3 linked regions of the Homo sapiens genome follow. The protein of the gene in region 2 purifies or fractionates together with the protein of the main gene of each other region. This does not show direct contact. Each region holds a gene or a part of one and is shown on either strand. Other genes may lie near its edges.

Region 1 (3,500 bases), on a different chromosome or scaffold from region 2:
ATACAATCCACTGATCTTCAGATTTCTTGTTTTACTGTATGTGTGTGTTCTACACAATTTTATCACCTGTGTAGGTTTTCATATATTCACCTCCAATGTTAAGATACTCAACAACTCCAACATTGCAAGGATCCTTTTACCTCCCTCCTCTTTCCACGGTCCTTAGCTCCTGATAGCCACTAATCTGACCTGAATTTCTAAAAACATTTTTTTTCTTTTTCTTTTTTAAGATGAAGTTTCACTCTTGTCACTCAGGCTGGAGTGCAGTGGCACGATCTTGGCTCACGGCAACCTCCGCCCCCTGGGGTTCAAGTGATTCTCCTGCCTCAGCCTCCCAACTAGGTGGGATTACAGGCGCACACCACCACATCTGGCTAATTTCTGTATTTTTAGTAGAGGCGTGGTTCCACTATGTTGGCCAGGCTGGTCTCAAACTCCTGATCTCAGGTGATCCGCCTGCCTCGGCCTCCCAAAGTGCTGGGATTACAGGCGTGAGCCACTGCACCTGGCCAATTTTTTTTTTTTTTTTCAAGAATGCACTATAGGCCAGGCACAGTGGCTCATGCCTGTAATCCCAACACTCTGGGAGGCCAAGGCAGGTAGATCACCTGAGGTCAGGAGTTTGAGACCAGCCTGGCCAACATGGCGGAACCCCGCCTCTACTAAAAATACAAAAATTAGCCAGATGTGCTGGTGTGCGCCTGTAATCCCAGCTACTCAGGAGGCCAAGGCAGGAGAATCACTTGAATCCGGGAGGCAGAGGTTGCAGTGAGCCAAGATGGCACCACTGCACTCCTGCCTGGGTGACAGAGCGAGACTCTGTCTCAAAAAAAAAAAAAAAAAAAAAAAAAAAAAGAATGCTATACAAATGTTATATAAATTGCACAGCATATAACCTTTTGGAATGGGCCTTTGCATTCAGCACTCTCTGGAGATTCATCCAAGTTGTTACCTGTATCAATAATTTTCTTCTTTTTATTGTTGAGAAATAGCCCACAGTATGGATATACCATAGTTTCACCATCCATCTGTTGAAGGACATCTGAGTTGATTCCAGTTTGGGGCTACTACAAATAAAGCTGCTATGAACATGTGTGTACAAGTTTTTCTGTTAACCTAAGTTTTCATTTCCCAAAGAAAAATGCTCAAAAGTCAATTGTTGTGTTGTATGGTAACTGCATGTTTAGTTTAGTTATTTTCTTTTAAATGGCATTTATTTATTCTTGCTAGTGATAAACATGATAAGGAAAATAAAAACATTTAGTAATCTAACCAATCTACTTTTTCCTGTCTCTTTTTTTGATGTGTATGGTATATATATCTTTTAAATAAAAAGTTTTATATCCTGTTTTCCCCCAATAAAACACATTATAAGTAAAACTGTATTGTTAAGTGTTCTAAAATATCATTTTTAATGGCCCTTTGTCATTATGCAGCAACAGCATAATTTAACCCTTCTATTTCTGCAGATTTAGGGGTCTCAAATTTTTCCTAAAAGGATATGTTGGTAAATGTCCATCAACAAGTGAACAGATGATGTACAATGGGATGTTATTTAGCACTAAAAGGGAGTGAACATCTGCAGGTCTAGATAACCAAAAAAGAAAAAAAAAAAAAAGGAAAACCAAGGAGTGAACACTAAAAAGGAACGAGACACACAACAACATGGATAAATCTCAAAAAAAAAAAGTACATCCTGAATGTCCTTTTCTCCACATTTATATTCCATTATATTCCATATTTATATAAAATTCTAAAAATCCGCAAACTAATCCTTAGTGACAGACCGTAGACCAGAGGTTGCTTGAGGATGGGAGGGTGAGGGAAGGGGCAGGAGGGCGTGATTACAAAGGAAAACTCTGGGGGTGGGGGCAGCGGGTGGCAGATATGTTTCCTATCTTGATTCTCATTAATTGTACACATTATGTGCAGTTTACTGCATGTCAATTATACCTCAAGAATGCTATTAAAATGGAAAGTTTTTAAGAGGATGCCAATTTTTGGTGATTTTCTTAGATTGGACTACAAACCAAAGTACGATAGCAAAAAGAAAAAACTTAATTTAAGGCTCCTGATATTATTGCCAAATTGCTTTCCAATAACTAATGTATTAGCATGTCCATCTTCGTACACTTTCATCAACAGTGAGCACCGCACATTTTTAAAACCTCTACTGACTTGATGGGGTAAAAAAAAAAATTTTATTTTTCACTAACTTGATTACTAGTGAAATTGGGTGTTTTCGTTATCTTTTAATTGGCTACTGGTGTCATTTCTTTGATGAACTATCTATTTATACAGGTTGCCCCCTTTTTTTTTTTCCTACTGGGAGTTAGGAAATACCTTTACATGTAAAAACCATTATTTGTATGTCACAGAGGTGGCTAATAGTTTCCCTAGCTTATTTCCTTCTATTACTTTTCTGTTGTTTTCTAAATTCTCCTTTATTTTTAAAAATGTAATTTTTCTTATTATAAAAATAATACACACTCATTGCAAAAATACAGAAAAACTAAAAAGATAATGATGACTACTTAGAGATAATCATCATTAATGTACTGGTATATATTAATCAGGCTTTTTTCTATGGATGACTATTTTATTTATTTTATTTTATTTATCTTATTTTTGAGATAGAGTCTTGTCTCTCACCCAGGCTGCAGTACAGTGGCAGGATCTCGGCTCACTGCAGCCGCTGCTTCCCAGGTTCAAGCAATTCTCGTGTCTCAGCCTCCTGACTAGCTGGGATTACAGGCATGCACCACTATGCCCAGCTAATTTTTGTATTCTTAGTAGAGATGGGGTTCCGCCATGTTGTCCAGGCTGATCTAGAATTCCTAACCTCGGGTGATCTGCCTGCCTCAGTCTCCCAAAGTGCTGGGATTACAGGCGTGAGCCACTGCGCCTGGACAACATGACAATTTTTAAAAATTATTATACATACAACAGCTTTTTGTCCATAGTATGGACATCTTCCGATAGCAATATATACTAACCAGATACCAAGACCTTCAATTTTGGAGTTTCTTCAGGTTCTTATAGGGTTCAATGATCTCCAAAGTTAGGAACCACTGATCAACATTATATTTTATGGCTGAATGGACTATAATTTATTTAATAGTATATCTGTTGATAAAAACTTAGATTTTTAATTATTGAATATTATAAACAGCATGACTAATATTCTCATTTATAAATCTGACTAGTCTGATGATTTCCTTAGGATAAATTCCTAGAAGTAAAATTTGAAAAATTGAGTGCACGCCTTAATTTACTGTCAAACTGCCCTCCAAAAATGTACAAATGTACAAGAGAATCATAGCCACTGTGGGCTGGGCATGGTGGCTCACGCCTGTAATCTTAGCACTTTGGGAGGCCAAGGTGGGTGGATCACCAGAGGCCAAGAGTTTGAGACCAGCCTGGCCAACACAGTGAAAGCTTGTCTCTAATAAAAATACAAACATTAGCTGGGCATGGTAGCAGGCACCTGTATTCCCAGC
Region 2 (5,586 bases):
CCTGTAATCTGAGCACTTTGGGAGGCCAAGTGCTTGAGACTAGGAGTTTGAGACCAGCCTGGACAACATAGCAAGACTTTGTCTCTACTAAAAATCAAAAAAGGGCTTGGTGGTGTGCACCTGCAGTCCCAGCTACTCAGGAGGCTGCGGCAGGAAGATTGTGTGAGCCTGGCAGGTCGAGGCTGCAGTGAGCCATGATCGTACCACTGCACTCCAGCCTGGGTGACAGAGCAAGACTCTGTCTCAAAAATAAATAAATAAATAAAAATAAAAAGGCTCTTAATGGAAACACTCTCCTAGCCTAGGAATTAGACAATACTACCACTCTAGTGACCCATCTTGGTCCAGGCACACTCAGGGACTCTTCCCTGGGCCATGCTGTGAGGCTCACGGTCTTTCCCAGACGGCTGTCGCGAGCAGCCCTGACAGGGTAGGGAGAAACTCCTACTGTGGAAGAGACTCTTGCTCTATATGGAATTCACTGCACTACATGAAGATGAAACTAGAAAAACCAGCCTGGGAAGAACCCCGGGAGCTAACTGCTCAAATGGTAAGCGTTCAGGTAAGGCAACCACAATTCTACACCACACCCAGTACCATATTTAATTTGCATTTTTCTAAAGGAACTAGAGGAACAAACTTATCTTCAAACATTCCAATGACGAGGAAGCCTTCTCTGACCAGGCCTCATCACTAGCCTCGACTGGAGGCGCTTTCACTGTGCTCCCAAATACCCATACACATCTGTCACTGCCCTGACAAGCGGTCACGCAGCTCCCAGAAGCTCCGATCCACTTCTGGACAGAGTCGATGTCCTGTTTACCACTGAATCCCCACTGGGTAGCATAACACCCAACACACAGTAGGTGCTCAACAAACGATCTGATGAGTGGAGGGGAAAAGCAACTCTGAAGCAGAAACTGAAGTGGAGCTGGCTGGCGTTCTCACAGTGTCTTCCCGCTCTGCAGCAGGCCAGGGGCCATGATCATTCTCTGAACATCCCACAGTTAGAAGCACGCACTGAGTACTAAAGTACTCCAGTACTCTAAGTATTATAGGCTACATGTGAAGCAAACAAAAATGAGCAAGACAGAAATTCAACCACACTCAGAGTAGGGAGTATGTGCTCGGGTAAGTGCATGTTTGTTAAGGGACACAGAAACAAACTGCTTGGTCTCCTTGCCTCCTGGTTTCTTCCTTATTCCCAAGCATCCTCCGCAGCTCTTCCTTATTCCCAAACATCCTATGCAACTCTGCCAAACTGTTTTCGTGCCAATGCCTTACTAAGGAGTCTTTTGGTTCCAGGTGCCCATAGGATCGGGTCCATTCTCCTTAGCATGGCGGTCAAGGTCTCGCAGCATCCATTCCCAAGTCCCCTAAGGAACCCTCCCCAGAGGTGGGGGGCTGCTCCACTGCTGCCAGGCTTAGAAAATCCTTCTTCCTCTCTCCTCTTCTGCATTCTAAAGCACACCTTTGCTCATCCATCTCACCCTCCATCCACTCAAGCCCTCAGTTACCCACCTATGGGTACCTGATTTCTCTTCATCACACAGTGCAACTCTATTATCTCTCATTTTTATATACTGAAGTACGGAGCCATAAAATATTGACAATTCTAAACGGAATTTAACCCTACTTTATTTATGTCAGGTACTAAAATAACAGCCTAACCCTCATTTGATGGTTTAACAACTCCCTGTACTCTGCATGATCCAAGACTGGATATTTGAAACAGGTATAGTTATGCTACTCATTTTAATATAATGTCTCCAACGACAACATTTTAAAAACATATGGTACAGACATCACAAATATTTCCAAAATGATCTATTCCAAAAAAGCATTAAGGGAAGTAAGTTCTTGAAAACAAACCAAGAAAGACAGTACAAAAATTGGAGGTTTCACTTTCCAATAAGACACTTTAAATGTAGTACTGTTTTGTTACATGACAATTTCAAATCAAGTCATCTCAAAATCGTACTGACAGCCTTGGAACTACCACTGGTTATAACACTATTAATAAATAGAATTACATGAAATTATGCTTTTAATTCTATCAAATCTCCTGACTACTCAGTTTCTTGGACCGCCCCTGGGGAAATCTCTCACTTCCTATCACGGAAGTGACTGCCCTTTATTTTAAAGAACGGGGTTCTCCTAGTTTGGACATCTTTTAAGGGGTTTTCCATAGAAACAACTGCTACCCACATCCAACTGAGAAATCTCAATGTCAAGTCCTCTAAGCATGACTTAATTAAAAAAATTTCCCCTGCAGTTTCCATTTCAGATCCACGGCTGTTTTCCTCCTTGACCCTGGAGCGTTCCTGTACTTACTTCACTCCTGTCCCTCACCGAAAACAGCGGTACTGGAGGAATCAACCCCATGCCCGCCAGTCACCGGGTTGTTTGAGGTCATGGATAAATACAGCTGAAGCTCCTCTGCCCCGTACGTACGGCTAGCACGAGAAACTTACTGTAGTTTTAGTTTTAACATTCTCCATAGGTGACTTTAAACTTCATTTCTTGAAAATGGGTTCAAAATAAGAAAACTGCCCTGGTTGCGCAGGGATCACACCCGCAGCAGACGGCGCGCGCTGGCCTTGGCGGGCCGGGCGAGAGCGGCCTTAGGCGTTCACTCCCCTGCCTGCCTGCGCTCCACTCGAACCCAGCTTTTTCTTGGGCGAGTATGCTAAGGGCCGAAGTTTCCGTGGAGAGCCGCCCCCACAGGCCCCGGGGGCTGCCAGGACCTCTGAGGCAGGGCCGGGGGCCAAGGGCAGGTCTGCCCGGAGGCGGCACGAAAACCTCTGCCAGGCTTTGGGATTGGGATGCAGGGCGCTCCAAGGAGACCCCCGCCCCTAGTTTCACCGAGAGGCCCATCCCCGAAAGACTCCCAGGCTCGATGAGACTCGAAGCCCACGGGGCGAAGGGCACCTGCCCGGGCGCCAGGAGGCCCGGCCCAGGGTCGCCGTGGCGCCCTTACCCACGGTGGACTTGCAGGCCTCGCAGAAGGTGTCGTCGGTGAAGCGCTCCATCAGGCTGGTCTTGCCCACGCCGCGGGAGCCGATAATGATGACCTGCAACTTGAAGTCGGCCGGCCTGGGGGGCTGCTTCCTCCGGCGGCCCTGGCCGCCCGACAGCGCCGGGGAGCCCGCGCCCAGACCGCCGCCGCCCCCGGCCCGCCTCTGCAGCGCGGCGCCCGGATCCATACACGCATGCGGCTCCCGCTCGGCCCGCCGCCCGCCGCCGCCCGCCCCCCGGCTGCGCGCCCCGGGCCCCGGCGCCCCCTCGGCCTCCGCCGCGCGCGGGGGGTCGGCCCCGGGCTCGGCTTCCGCCCGCTGGAGCGGCCCCGGCGGCCCGTGGGCTCCGCGCTGCAACTGCGCCGCCGGCCGGCTCTCTGCGCCCGGGTCCCCTCCTCCTCCTCCTCCGCCGCTGCCGCCGCCGCCGCCGGGAGAGGAGGAAGGGAAGCAGCTACTCCGCAGTAGCGGCAGCAGCATCCCGGACGAGGAGGGGCAGGAAGCGCAGGCGCGGGCGGGGCGGCTGGCCGCGAGGGGCCGGAGGCGGGCGGGTGGGCGCCCCCTGCCGGCGGGAGGACCGCGCGCCCGGGCCTCGGTTGGGTACTGCGCGCGGAGCTTTCCCGCAACCCGCGCCGCTCTTTCCCTGCCTCTGCTCGCCTGCCCGCCCCCGCTTCCCTCCCTCTTCCGCCGGCTCTTTCATCTTTTCTTCCTCTTATCTCTTCCCTTTTCCCCCTTTTCACTCCTCCCTACTCGGCTTTCACTCTGACCCGCATTTATAGTTAACACAAGAAACTTAGTGTGGTTTTAGTCTTAAAATTCTCCGTAGGCAATTTTGAACTTCAGCATTCCGGTGCATCATGAAAATGGGTTCAAAATAAGAAAAAGAACCCTGGTTGACAGTGAAAACACTCCCATGCGCACAGTCCCCAAACACCATGCACATGTTTTCGCCCCCGCGCGCTCGGTGTAGCTGGAACGCTGGAAAGGCCCCGACCTGAGGCCGCGCCGCCGGGCCGCCTGCGCTGCGTTCGCGTCTACACCAGCGCTCTCTCACAAACACCAGCGGGTGCAAGCCCCCGCACCCTCTACCGGGCCGTGGCACTGCTCGGTCTCTCTCCGTCACGTCTGTCTCCCATTTTGCACGGAAACGCGCGAAATCAGTTATTTTTAACTCTGATCGCTGTCTCACTCAGAGTTCAGAAGTTTTTATGCTGTTTAATTTTTAAATTAAGTAAATGGCATACTCCTTTGGGGGAATAAGCGAGTTAAAACTCAAACAGTGCGAGAAGATTGAAACTTTAGGAATTATGGACTCGGGTCGTATGTTTTGCCATTTCTGTTTGGAAGGATTTAAGGATACAGAAAATCACTGCTGATTCCTTGCCAGAGATTTGTTTAGCAAATTCCTCAGCTTGAACTTGAGCATCTCAGAACACAGGGTTCTGAATATGATAGGGGCTGGCAACATTTGCCGAATGATCACGTTACCCACAAAATTTCAGCTGTGCTGTATTTAGAACTAGGTTTAGTAATGCACAGTACACGCATATGTTACACAGCAAACCTGATTTGTAAAAATCTAGCGTTGCCCACAGTGTAGATTGGAAGTTTACATCTATGAGAGCATTCTTAACTGTGCAGTCACTGTAGGGATCTTTATAATATGAATTCTGAGAATATGTAAAATATGATCCCTCTATATTATTTGAAACACAGATCCATCACTTACCATCACGGAATTTACTTTCTTTCTTTCCTTCTTTCTTTCTTTTTCTTTCATTTTGTTTTGTTTTGATTTTGAGACAGCCTTGCTCTGTTGCGCAGGCTGGAGTGCAGTGGTGCGATCACAGCTCACGGCAGCCTGGAACTCCTGGGCCCAAGTGATTTTCCTTGCTTAGCCTCCTGAGCCGCTGAGACCACAGGCACGTGCCACCACGCCTGGCTAATTTAAAAATTTTTTGTACAGTTGGGGTTTTGGTTTGTTAACCAGGCTAGTCAACAGTGTGAGACCCTGAACTGGCCTCAAGTGATCCTCCCACCTCAGCCTTCCAAAGTGCTGTGATTACAGGCATGAGCCACTGTGCTCCGCCGCAGAACATTTCTTAGCTGTGGGTTTCTCTTCTGTTCTATGAGAATGAGAGTAGTGGCCCCTCCTTTCCTCTAGCATTGTTAGGAAAAAAGCAACTAACAATCTCTGCAGTCTGCTGCAACCATAAGGCACTATATAAATGTAAGGGATTAAAGAAACTGATTTATGCATGGCTTTTCAGGAATACTGTGATTTTACAAAGCAAGACGCATCTGCAAAGGTAATCTCAAGATTTTTAATTTGGTCCATTCTGATTAATAGCACCGCCTGTCTTAATAGGCAGATGCATGTGGCATGGCTTGTGGGGCTGAAGACCTTCTTGCCCAAAATAAAATATCTTCCCCATAAGGTAGATCTGTAGTTTCTGCCACTAGAATAATTAATGAACTAAATGACAGAGGTTGGGCAGTGTTTCTGGAGGACAGGTAAGTGCATATTCACTATTTTAAATCAATTATTATAGTGCCCCTAATCCCCTGGGAA
Region 3 (2,573 bases), on a different chromosome or scaffold from region 2:
GGCCAGCCCAGAAAGGGGCTCCCACAGTGCAGCGGTGGGCTGAAGGGCTCCTCAAGTGCCGCCAAAGTGGGAGCCCAGGCAGAGGAGGCGCCGAGAGCGAGCGAGGGCTGTGAGGACTGCCAGCACGCTGTCACCTCTCACCAGCACTTTGGGAGGCTGAGGCGGGTGGATCACGAGGTCAGGAGATCGAGACCATCCTGGCTAACACGGCGAAACCCTGTCTCTACTAAAAATACAAAAAAATTAGACGAGTGTGGTGGCAAGTGCCTGTAGTCCCAGCTACTCAGGAGGCTGAGGCAAGAGAATGGCGTGAACGTAGGCAGCAGAGCTTGTAGTGAGCCGAGATCGTGCCACTGCACTCCAGACTGTGCGACAGAGCGAGAGACTCCGTCTCAAAAAAAAAAAAAAAAAAAATCTATAAACTGGTGCACCGGTACCGGTCCCCATCTCCCCAGGTTATGAGGAACAAATGAGATAATCCACAGAGCAGGCGAAACACATTGAGTAAGCCACTGTTATTTACTAAGAAGACAGGCTCACGGAATGGTTGCGGCAGCCTCATTAGTTCCTTTGCGAAGTGCAGACACCCGCTCTCTGTTTCATTGATTCCTAAATGCATTTTGTTCACATCTTAACACCTCTGAAATCAGGATGAGTCCTAAAATCGATAGCTTCTTAACATTTTAGTTTGCAGCAATCTTTCCCTTCATAGTGACACCAGATAATCGTGCATCGCTTAGACTGAATGAATGCAATTGATTCATTATACAATGAAATGTAGATATATGACATATACACACATATACCATGTGTACCATCGTAACTAAGAGACCACTCTAGATAAGCTATAGAAAGTATAAAAATCATTTTACTTTAATACAAAATCACATAAAGAAAGGCATGTTGGCTAAATCAAATATTCACTAAATATCAGTGAAGTCACCACTGGAATCTCAATAGCACATTTTCCTGCTTTCTTTTCTCCCTTCTGCTAACCATTGAAGACCAGGGTCATCCGTGGGAGCAGATGAGTAGGACACGCGTCTGCACGCTGGAGGCCCTGGGGGTTGACATGGGAGCAGGAAGTGGACCCCCCCACCCTGCACATCCCTTCTGTTTTTCTTGATTTCAGTCTCACTGGCCCAGGCCAAATCTTCAAGGGTGTCTAGTTCTGCAGCCAGGGAGAAAGTGATGCCAAGAGAACCTCGTCTCCTCCCTCCTCAGTCTGCTTTGAAGGGGAAATAAATACACAGGCCTAGTGTGTCTGTGTGGCACAGGGAGGTGGTTTTGCCAGGCATCTTGGAAGGTTGTCTTCTAGAATCAGAGCCATAGCCTTACTTGTGGCCTTGGATCTAGGTCTGTTTCCCCGATCGAAAAAAGAACCTGGTGTGGAGAGAGAGAGGGTTCAGGGTAAGCAGAAGGAACAAAGCAAGGGGCACAGCAACCCCCGTAAAATTTCTAAGTAGCTCTTGCAGCTGTTGACTCAAAAATATGTCCAGGCCAGGCATTGTGGCTCACGCCTGTAATCCTATGATTTTGGGAAGCTGAGGCAAGAGGATGAGGATCACTTGATCCCAGGAGTCTCAGACATGCCTGGGCAGCATAGTGAGACCCCATCTCTAAAAAAAAAAAAAAATTAACCAGGCGTGGTGGCATACACCTGTAATCCCAGCTACTCAGGAAGCTGAGGCAGGAGAATCGCTTGAACCCGGGACGCAGAGGTTGCAGTGAGCCGAGATTGCGCCACTGCACTCCAGCCTGGGCGACAGAGCAAGACACTATCTCAAAAGAAAAAGAAAAAGCAAAAAAACCCCAAAAAACCCGGGTGCGGTGGCTCATGCCTGTAATCCCAGCACTTTGGGAGACGGAGGCAGGCAGATCATGAGGTCAGGAGATCGAGACCATCCTGGCTCACACGGTGAAACCCCGTCTCTACTAAAAATACAAAAAATTAGCCGGGTGTGGTGGCGGGCGCCTGTAGTCCCAGCTGCCTCGGGAGGCTGAGGCAGGAGAATGGCATAAACCCGGGAGGCGGAGCTTGCAGTGAGCCAAGATGGTGCCACTGCACTCCAGCCTGGGTGACAGATTGAGACTCCGTCTCAAAAACAAAAACAAAAAAACACATTCATTCGTTCATTCATTCACTCATTGATTCTAGTAGCTCATTAAGTTTATCTGACCCTGAAAGGGTGGCCTCACGCTCATTAGCCACTAGCCACATGTCCTCAGGCTAGCTCATGCACAGAACACACATTTCACTTTTGCTCTATTAGGCTCAAACTCCAATTAGGTGTCCTAAGCTCCCGTAGAAGGACGCTGAAAGAAACCAGTAGTTTATGCCTTCTGGAAGCCTGATTTGCAACAAGACAGCCAATGAAAGTCCTAAATGAACACCTTCACTTCGGACACCTGGGTGGAGGTGCTCTTTCATTATCTTACCTCAGAAGACCCTTCCTTGTGGAAGAAACACTTCCATTAGGCTGGGTGCAGTGGCTTACACCCGTAATCCTAGCACATTGGGAGGCTGAGGCGGGCGGATTGCTTGAGCTCAGGAGTTCCAGACCAGCCTGAGA

Evidence for each region.
Region 1: the proteins of RAB12 (region 2) and SMARCAL1 fractionate together in Homo sapiens (co-fractionation; one large-scale study listed by BioGRID). This does not show direct contact.
Region 3: the proteins of RAB12 (region 2) and RILPL2 purify together in Homo sapiens (co-immunoprecipitation; one study listed by IntAct). This does not show direct contact.

The regions. Positions count from the first base shown.
Region 1 is NC_000002.12:216,471,484-216,474,983, reverse strand, and holds part of SMARCAL1 (SWI/SNF-related matrix-associated actin-dependent regulator of chromatin subfamily A-like protein 1), read right to left. Parts: intron 1-3,500. UniProt on the Homo sapiens protein: ATP-dependent annealing helicase that binds selectively to fork DNA relative to ssDNA or dsDNA and catalyzes the rewinding of the stably unwound DNA. Rewinds single-stranded DNA bubbles that are stably bound by replication protein A (RPA).
Region 2 is NC_000018.10:8,607,348-8,612,933, reverse strand, and holds the start of RAB12 (ras-related protein Rab-12), read right to left. Parts: upstream 3,498-5,586; 5' UTR 3,495-3,497; coding exon 2,981-3,494; intron 1-2,980. UniProt on the Homo sapiens protein: The small GTPases Rab are key regulators of intracellular membrane trafficking, from the formation of transport vesicles to their fusion with membranes.
Region 3 is NC_000012.12:123,414,539-123,417,111, forward strand, and holds the end of RILPL2 (RILP-like protein 2), read right to left. Parts: intron 1,384-2,573; coding exon 1,353-1,383; 3' UTR 501-1,352; downstream 1-500. UniProt on the Homo sapiens protein: Involved in cell shape and neuronal morphogenesis, positively regulating the establishment and maintenance of dendritic spines. Plays a role in cellular protein transport, including protein transport away from primary cilia.